Linked DNA regions of Homo sapiens: region 1 is linked to region 2. Evidence: fine-mapped expression QTL. Tissue or cell type: spinal cord. Region 2 holds a variant in brackets; the other region holds the start of a gene. All regions are shown on one strand. Distances are from middle to middle.

The links. PIP is the estimated chance that this variant, and not a neighbour inherited with it, causes the effect.
Region 1: CDH12 starts here. The variant in region 2 is the best candidate, but not a certain one, in a credible set for the expression of CDH12 in spinal cord (GTEx, PIP 0.74).

Annotation. Positions count from the first base shown.
Region 1 is chr5:22,850,132-22,855,529 of GRCh38, forward strand. It overlaps CDH12 (cadherin 12), which reads right to left and starts at 3,213. Exons shown (of 15, transcript NM_004061.5): 1 at 2,927-3,213.
Region 2 is chr5:22,173,410-22,178,807 of GRCh38, forward strand. All of the region lies in intron 4 of CDH12 (cadherin 12), which reads right to left. Among named protein-coding and RNA genes, the nearest start is that of SNORA105A, 290 kb to the left of the region's middle. The variant T/C (reference allele first, on the strand shown) is at 2,759.

The DNA.
Region 1 (5,398 bases), 680 kb after region 2:
TAACTCTCACTTAATATGTTGTAAAAAAGTTATTTACTCCATTTTATTAATCATCTTATGATGAGATGCTTAAAAACAACTTTGAGTAACTACTATTGATATTCAATACAGGCAGCATAGTACACATTCACACACACACATTTTCCTTTTAAAGTTTGGTTATGATATATTACCCTCCTAGCATAGTAAGTCAGGAAAAAGCTGCAACTGTCTTAAAGCTGAAAGTTAAAAGGCTTTTAAAAGCTCTGAGTTTAAATTGTTCAGTTATTCAGTATTAGCAAAATAAAAAGCTCCCAGTAAAAATAATACATTTTCATTTATTTAACAATTAAATGTATTTTTGGGTACTATTTAAGCCTATTCATAAAAATAAAATGCAATATTTGTTAAACAGGAAGGATAAATATTTTCCACCTATAATTTAACACAAATAGGAATATCAATTGGTACTAGATTATAAGCAAAATGTTCTCTATTGATGTAATGATCACATGATAATTTCTGACATAATTACTTTTAAAACAGCAATAATTTGCTAGAAGATGAACAGGATAATATCTTACTTTAAATGAGACATCTGTAATCACTCTTTCCCTTTGGAAGTAGGAAGAAATTTACAACAGAGTCTGCTAGTAGGTCATTTTATTACCCAAGCCCTTAGATTTTATATTTTTACATGAAAACATGGCTCACTTTTAAAGACAGCCATCACTCTATGAATCCTCCTATCATGGCAAGACTGATTTGATGTTCATCACAATGCATTTTAAGAGGCAAGAGTGACATATATCCTTATTAATCTCATAATGATAAAGGATTGATTTCAACCTATATCCCAGACTGTTACATGAAATAGGCTCTGCCAAAATATCAGGTTCAAAAGATGCTCAATTTAAGGAGATCAGTTTTATGCTCCATCCTCAAAGGACAGAGTTATATGAGGTGTAAGTACGTCACATGAGGCATTAAGAGAAATTTTCTTCCCCATAAACTAAACACTGTTTGTACTGTAGTAAGAACTTAATACATATCATTCCGTGTGTGGAAGAAATGACTCACACTCCCTCCCCCTCCCCCCAACAATAATGCAGCTTTCTCTTTTTTGTAGGAATTATCTAAAATGATCACATCACTAAGCAGATCAGTGAGAGGAGTGAGTTTGAGTAGAAAATAAAAAAGCATTCGTGGCTTAAAAACTTCCCCCTACTGCTTGGAAATGGCACACCACAGTAGAAGTTAAGAACACAGCAAGCAGAGATTAACTGAACAACACAGAAAATCAAAAACATTTTTTTAATGGGGAAGGGGATTAACAATGCCAGGGCTAATCTTGGAAACTGGTCTCTGAAGTAAGAGTTATTAAGAGAAAAATATGTTATGTTCTAGAATTCGATTTTCAACTTAATTGAAAACCTCTTTTTACTTCAGTAGTTTTCATAGAAGGTGGAGAGACAGTTTCTAAATATTGTTGCTGAATAACTCGATGTATCAGTTAAATTAGTTAAAGGGAAGCCCCTGTTTTGCATGTGGCTATCCACTCAACCACTCCAAAACAATTCGTCAATCACCTGTTCATGGTTTGGGCAAAGTAACCATCTGCCTTTCAATTCTGAAGAGACATTCTGCTAGAATCATGGAATTATTTATAATAAAAACTTACTCGGTTGAATTCTCCTGTTGACATAATAATAAAAATATATAAGATGATATTTTAAATTGTCTAGGATAATTTAATGATGAGGCGCTGCCACTGAATGATGAGGTTCAGTATTTCTTGACAGCTGTGTGTCTGGATATTATTTTATAACCTTACAACTGCTCAGGTATACAGTGAAGATCAAGCAAACTAATACCTGCTTGGCATGGTTGCATTTTTCCTGTTTTGGTCATGTATAGTGTAATTTAAAACTGTAAACACATTTTCAGAATCTACTCTATTTGAATTTTTCCCCCTCAGTATGTAAGGTAATTTTCTAGCTGAGCAGTTTGTGAATGAGCTTCAAAATACTCGATGAGAAATTGAGAATCATGAAATGGTCGCAGAATCAGCCAGAAGTATGTCAGTTCCCTCTCCAGAGAGTACAGAGAAATGTGTATAAGAGATATCAGGTACTCTGAAGTACAGAGGTTCTAAATACACTGTGGTCCCGATGTAGCAAAAAACAAATAATGATGTTAAAAACATAAGAAAATACTTATAAAATGCTGAAGGTCTTTTTTGAAAAATGATTTGCCATTATGTCCTATATCACACATATTTCCTCCTTGTTAAATGTATCACCAAATGATCAATAACCTTAAAATAATTTGGAAATGCATATTATATAACCCACAGCAGATCTGGTAATCTATCTCTTTCATTTGTCCCAGATTAGTTTTGTGGTAGGAAACTCAAATGGCTGTACCATGAGAGGCAGGCCATTAAAACATTTAAATGGTTTTACAGTGGTATTTTTCAAATGAAGAATGAAGTTCATAAATTTCAGCGTCAGTGGAGAAATGAGTGAGGGGGGTCGGCATCTCTGGAAGCTCTTTGAAAATAAAGCATTCATTATTTTGTTGTAAAAATCAGATATCTATAAAGCCATTTATAAAATAACTAGTTGGACATCTAGCACACCTACTTATTTTCATTTGAAAATTTAGCCATGCTAAGATGCATTTGAGGTTAAAACATTTCTTTCCTTCCTCTTTTCACGTAACCTCTCACGGTCTGAGGACCAGAGACTTGTTTAGAACTTACCGAAGTTTCCCAAAGCAAAACCACGCACAAGCTCCTAATTCAGCTGCCAGATCTGTGTGCAGCTTCGTTCAGCTTCTCACTACGCTAGGCATCACTTTATTAATCATGTATGAATTTCTGTGCATGCACCCTGAAGCGATCACACACACGCGGTGCAATCCCAATCAAAAACGGAAGCCTTACCTGATGGCAGAAAAGGCAGCTGCAGGAGCAGCAGCACCGACGGCCGCAGCAGGGTGCCAACAGCTCAGCCTTGCGCGGAAGGTGAGACCCTTCTCTTCTGTTTCCCCTTTCCAAATCACTGTGCCAACACACTGCTTTGCATTTTGTCCGTTTTCATTCAAAGAAGGTTCTCCAGGCCGGGCAGCCAGTAGACACCACTTTCTTCCTGGAAGAGGCTGCCTCTCTTCTCAGAAAAGCCTGGACCCCTCTCTGTGGCTCCCTCCACATTTACCCTTCAGATCAATAATGCTCTCGGAGCGGCTGGAGCTCAACTGCAGCGGCGAGCGGCGAGCCAATGGGGGCCCAGGATTCCCTCCTGTCATCTCCCCGCCCTCAAAACAAAACACAGCGTGCCTTTGACACATCATTGAGTAGTGAAAAGTAATTGAATCCTATATTTGAAATGTATTTTGTTTGTTCTTTTTCCCCCCTAGCGTTCATTGTAGAATGCTTTGAATGAATCCGAGGACTCCTTAGCTCTCAGAAGACTCATTAAACGAGCCTAGCAGCGGGTGAAGATTAGGCGCTGAGAAAGTGATAGCACCTGGGTTAGCACCCGAAGCTTTGCTTTTTAAATGCTTGAGATCTATTGCATATCAGAGAACTGTCACCTGGGAGGAAAAAATCTTGGGTTCTATTAGTCTTTCCTCCACTAAGTCGCTTGAGTCTTTTTTGTGAATCAAGACAATTAATTACGTTTACCTGGAAGCTGTCTCAATGTTTAATTGTCTAAACGAGAATCAGATGCTTATTGGTGACAATAACCATGCTCAAGCAATTTCTCCTAATTCACTTACTTGTTTCTAGGCTGATTTAACTTGGTTCAGAGTCTATGAAGAACTCAAGATTGCTAAGACTATATACATTAGTCTGGTCTGTTTTAATTTTGTCATGTTTAAATATTGTAAGATTTTAAAAATTAATGTTAATTTCTCTTTATATGAGAGAATTTATTAATAATTACCTAAAACTTTATAGAATATTATAATGGCAATAAAATATTACAATGAAAAGTGTTATTGTTGAAAACCTATTCCTCCAAAAGCCACAAAACAACTTTGCATTCTTTAACCATGATTATCTTTCTTTGTGTTTCACTATTAAAGTGCTAACTATTGAATAAACATTTGCTTAAATATATTCACCAAGAATCGTGTATTTTCTAAGACTCTAAGTCATTTTATTATTCAGACATCAAGAATGCCACAATATTTCAGATAATCATTTAATTTTGTTCTATAAAAAATCTCAAGAGTACAGAGTCTCAATACAGTTTTAAAAATATGTCTCCCTACAGGAGGACTGTACACAAATAACAATGTCTTTTCAATGCTAGTGTTGAAAAAGAATAAAATTATTGGGACTGTCTGAAATCTTTTTGTTTCACTGAATACAAATGTGTTGATGTAGGTGGTGTAGCCAAGCTTTGTGTATCGTGACAAATTGAAATGGCTTGGGGAGACTTTACAAACAAAACAATTTCGTGACCTGTCTATCACGTGAAGGGAGGCACGGAAAAATGTAATATTTACACACTGTATGCTGTGTCACTATAACAAGGTGAATGCTAACTTTATTGTAACTCATTTATGTAGCCAATAAATATTTCATTCAGGGCAGTCTCTGGCTAAGTTTGGTCACTTGGATTTTGTGAAGAAAAGAATATGCTGATGAAAAAATGAATCATAAACATTGCTTTTCCCTCAATTGTATAGTATATTTTTCATTTATTTAAATTCCTTTTTTGATCACAAATAATAGGTCATTGACTACAGAACATTGTCTTTGTACTACAGGTCGAGAGTTCTCAATGTGTGGTCCCCAGACCAATAGCAAAAACATCACCTGGAACTTGTTGAAAAGACAAGTTCTCAAGCCCTTCCCCAAGCCTATCAAATCAGAAACTTTAAGAGAATGGGACACTGCGATCTATGTTTTAATATCCCTCCAGATGCTTCCAATGCACATTCAGGTTGGACAGTCATTGCTCTAGCTAAGGGGTCTACAAATTACAACAGAAGACCAGCCACCTGCTTTTGTAAATAAAGACTTATTGAAACCCAGTGGTGCCGATTTCTTTATGTATTGTCCATGACCGCTTTCGCATTACAATGGCAGAGTCAAGTAGTAGCCACAGAGACTTACAATATGAATCCTAAAATGTTTACTATCTGTCATTTAAAAAATAAATGTTTTGACCCCTCCTAGCGCATTGTAAGATGTGCAATATTATTAGTACAAACGGCAAAAGTTGAAGAAAAAAGAGCATCTGAAGGTGGAGTGGAGAAGATCAAATTAATGAAATCATTGAGATTTGAAAGAGATTGAAAATGATCATGTAATAAATTACATTGGTGTGTGTGTTTTGCAGATTTTTGCTGCTCTCCCTGTAGGAGGGATGCACTTCTCCCCAGTCTTGGCATCTTAGTATGA
Region 2 (5,398 bases):
TAAATATTAAATAAATATTAATAAATATTTCAAATGCTTTAAAATATTTGAAATAACCTGTATATAGAATTAGACTTTAGATATCTAACCCTTATATAGGATTAGGCTTGGATATCCTGGACATCCAAATAGAATCCTATATACAGATTAGATATTCAAATATTTTGAAGAATTACTTCGATTTTTACAACCTTGGTTAACTCTTCCTTTCTATGAGATGGTATGATGTAATTTTTACTACTTTTATTATATTGTTTGTCTGCTGTGTGCTGTAGCTATTCATATACTAAAATTGTTACTCCTACCACATACACTGTGATAGTAAAAGCACAACTAACACTTACGTAATGTGTAATTTCCTTAGTATTTTCGATGTTACCATAATTTTTTGCAATACTAATTAGTATTTTATGATAAAGTACGCTTAAAGAAATGTGGAGAATCCTAGTCTAGAAAAAATAGTTGAGCCTGTAAAAGCTGATATGCCACATGCCACTCCAAGTGGAATGGAGATAGTATGCTGCATTTCCCAAACATGTTTGGCCAGGAATCACTTTTGGTTATACTCATAGAATTACTAGTATTCTGTGAAACACATTAGGTGAATATAAATATTGTGATTTGTAACGCATGCAATGCTTTACGAATAAATATCATTTCATTTTCACAAAACATTTGAAGTAAGTAGATCAATAATTGTTAGTATTCTCATTCTATAGATGACAAGGTTGATGTAAAAAATGTGGCACAAGATTCATTGGAAATTCAAAATAAAATGTCCTCAACTTCGACTAAATCCTGTGTTGTCTTCATTACACTAAACACATGCTTAAAGCTCTACTTCTCTTGTATTTCTTTCAGTACCTTGCACAGTACCTTGAACTTTGTAAATACTTCAAAAATAAAACTTGCTTCAAATTTCATCTAATTTAATAGTAAGTTAAAATTAAAGCAAAAACAGTAAGTATGACTATGTCCCTAATAGTTTGTCAACACATTGATATAACAAAATGGTTTGTTTAATCAGTTCAAGATCCAATGGCATTTCTAAAAGCTTTTCAAAACTGTAATTAAGTTTTGTTTTTTAACTAAACTGCAAGCCTAGAATTTAGTGAAAAATCAGGCAGAAATCATGAATTGGAAAATATGTCCTGACATAGCTTTAGGTAAGAAATGGAATGATTAATATAGACCGACCATAATGAATACAAATGGAGTTCTGCCTGTTCTATTAAGTGAACCACGGGAATCAGTCAATACCATTTATCTTGAGGACAAGTAAAGACTGAGTCAAAATACACTAAAAAGAGGGTATATTAATGTGGATTTCTAATTAACCGAATCCACCACACTCTGGTCACCAATGATAAAAAGTTGCAAATATGCTTTATATATGCACAACCATACAGATAACTAATGTCAACTCAATTTGCAAAGCTATAAATTTTAAAGAACTGTCTTTAAATTGTATTAATTTTGAAAGAAATTTTGCTGTGCCAGGAATATAAGACACTAACAACCATCTCAAGGCTCTAATGACTCTATATTATTTATTAGTCTTCCACATTAATGTTATTATTATAAATGTCCTATACCTACTTACCTAGAGTTAAATTAATATTTTAAAATAAATATTAATGAATTAAACTATGTATTAAATGCCTAATTATTTAGCACATACAAAAACCCTCATTCTCAATCAATTACATTTCAGATTTAAAGAAATGCTTTTACTTTGTGAATTGTCTCATAAATAAATTTAGTTCTTTCTTTTAGGTTTAATAGGGTTTCTAAACATGCCTGGTTTAACAGATTATCAGTATTTGTTACACATTGTGTGTAATAGCATTAATTTAGAAAATTTAATGTACAGACACATTTTTCTTCTTCACAAATAGTAAACCATCTATCCATGTCAGATGTAGAAAAAATTGTTTAAAGCAAAATATGGTAGCTTCTTCTGTGTCTATCAGGTTATTCTGTTAAATGCCAGAAGGACTCAGAAGTTCAGGATCAAACAGAAAGCTAATATAAATCTATTTGGAAAACTTGAGAATGAAAAAAAATATATGTATATATCTATAAATGTATTTCTTTGCCTATTTCCCAGGCTTGAGTTTTCCTAAGTATCAGAAGGAAATGTAAATTTTTTATAACCAAAATTAAGAAATATATGGTGTTAATTAAAAAGAATAGAAAATAAAATAATGCAGCTAAAGATTTATAGGTTGAATGGGACATGCCTGTAAAAGGAATCTGTATAGGTGGTATCTATGTAGGTCAACCTACAACAGAAAGCGTGAATGCTGATGGCAGAATGAAGTCTAATCAGGGTAAGGAGAGAAAATTCTAGATATCCCTGATGGCTCATCTCCTCCACCCTTTCAGTGACTTAGCAAGAAACTGGATCAGCTCACCTGAACTAGCGCAATAAATAGGACCAGAGGCTGAGCTCAGGAGCTTTCTCCTTTTAACTCGGCCACTTCCTAAACCAAGAAGCACCAATCATCACAGGGTTACTAGATGTTTATTTTCTTCCTTTCTCCACTCCTAAAAATGTGTAGATCATTATAGGGCTGGTATCTCCTTCCCGGAACCCTTTCTGTGCTGAATCCAGTCCAGCTCAATCTGCTTTAACACGTCTCTATGGATTATTGAGCAACTGGGCTCATTTGACTCGTCCTAGTTCTCAGTGTATACATTATCTTCAAACAAACTCTATCACATATATACACTTCGGGGTATTAGGGTGTGAATG[T/C]CCATATCATCCTTATAATCCAGGACAAACTTTGTATATCTGAATGCAGTGGCAAGATTTTCACTTTTCATATTTGAATGAAAGATTCAAAACCATGTAAACATGTAAATCCCTTCATTGTTTTGTTGCTTTGTTTCTTTTTTTGAAAGTCTGTCTCCAGATTAAGTTTAACTGATCAATATATAGTATCTTAATCCATGTGTTTTAGGAAACAGTCTTTCTGATACTTTAAATAGCTGTGTTCAGATGATCACGTTTGTTATATAACATTCTCTGCTCAATTATCTTCTATTTTGCTTTCTTCCTGCCTTCCTCACCTAAATAAGCCAGCAGCTTTGTTTCTCATACCAAATGCTAGGTGTCATCTTTTTATTCCTTCCTTATCTATTCCAATAGCAGAGTCTGGTTAGTTCTACCCCAAATGTCTTTTCAATACTTGCACTTGGTATCTCTCCATTATGAATACTGTATTCCAAGCTACTGTCACTTTCTGCCTAACTGCCACCCTATCTTGTCTCTCTGCTTCTGCTCTCCTACCAGTCAAACCAGATCTCTTCCACAGGGGAGTGGGAGTGATCATTTAATCAGATCATACCACTCTTCTGCTAGGAGCATATCCAAACTCAGAGCCCTCATAGAGTTGGGGCACTTTCTACCTCTTTCACTTCCTCCTGTATCACCTCTGACTTCCCTCACTATCCTGCAGCCCCATTTGCCTGCAATGCCCTTTCCCTCGATATCTTCATGCTTTGCCTCTTTGCTCATGCCTCAACCAAGCTGCCATATGATCAGACAAGCCACCCACACTACTGATTCACACACAGGCATATGCTCATATCTGCTACCCTCCAACCCTGCCTTTTATTGTAATCAATAGTATTTATGATAACCTGACATAATACGTATTTGTTTCTTGCTTCACTGAATGTAAATGGTATTATAAATGGCATGAAACAGGGATTTTGACTTCCTAGGTGGTTACTCTACCCTCAGTACTTAGCACGTTGCAGGTTCTGCAGAAATCCTGATTAATGGAAATGTTGACACAAATCCCATGATTATTTTATGGTGAAATCACAAATTTCCCTACCTATTTTTTTCATACAGAAGTCGCTTTGCTTTTTTCTCATTAGTTGTATTTATCTTCTAAATGAAATGAAAATATATTGCAGAAACAGGAGTAAGTTTCCTGTAATTTGGGTGTGGGAATCCCTCTGTAGAACTTAGTGCCTGAAAACCTTGCTTCACAGGGGAAGGAATAATGAATCTCATGTTTAAATTATGTAGCACAAGTAGATATAGTATCAACTTAAAAAATTTCACAAATTCTTTGAAAATCCAACTATTCAAAGAAAATCCATATTCAAGCACAGACTTTAATTTGGAGTTACCCTTCTATTGGATCTCTATATAGCTTTGAAACTGATTAAAGCTGGCTTTGATTTCCACATTTAGAAATTAATCACACATGGCTGGATCACGGCCATGGGGGCTGCTATTCTAGAGCAACCTCTCTCTGTGAGACTTGGAAAAATATGAGGAGAGCCACCCACCTATCACACCATCAAACACTTATATAGACACACAACTGAGAGAGGGGTTGCTTCATGTGTTCTTTTCTCTAAAAAAAATCCTCTGGACATTTCTCTCTTAGCTTCAACGACTCTGTTGGTTTTTAAGTAGATAGAGAGATGGTTTGACAAATTAAAAGGTAGCTAGCTTACTAAACATAGCATGGTGAACACTTAATTCCAATCATAAAATAACATTTTACTATGTTCAAATTGTGAAAAACAGACAATAGTAAATGAAGATATCACTACTGATGGTGAAAGAAACAGAAAGTAACATGATTGCTGTTGACTTCTCCAGCTGCATCTTCCCTCACTGGCATGTATCCACACCGTGTTTCAGGAATACCAAGATATTTATTATTTCCTAAATAGTCAAGGCTACCTCTCATCCCTTAGATCTAATTGGTCATGCCCCTCTGCCCAGCAGAATTTTAACACCTATCCTTTCTCATGCTAACTTCTATTTAGATTTCAGATTAGATCTCAAAGTTAAACTCCTTCAGATGTGGACTCAGCTCAAATACCATGGATACCAGAGATATCATTGACTTAATTATTCTTATGCTCATTAAAGCCTTCCTTGGGTTGTTGTGATAGATTATTGTGATGGGGATATCAGATATCCTCAAAATTATAAATACCTATGGTATTAATAGTAATATTTTTGCAGAAAATTTACTTTTGAATATCTATGTATTTCTAATTTGTAAAACCACTTTTCTGTTATAAACAATGAACATCTCTTTATGCAACAGAGTTTATTCATCAATCTTTGTGTCTTTTTCTGATTGTTTCTATTAATTAAACTCTTAGAAGCTGAAATTGCTAGATAAATGCTGTTAACATTTAACACATATTGGCAAGTTGCCATTCTGAAGAGTAACACCAATTCATACTCTTACCAATAGTCCTCAGGGTACCCTTTTCCTCACATACTGTGAACTCTAGGTATTATCAATCTTTTTAACTTTGTAAAACTGAGAGTCAAATAAACTTGTTGTTTTGTGGTTCTACTATACCAAGAAAAGATATAATAGACATGAAAATGTTGGCATCTTTATGAGTC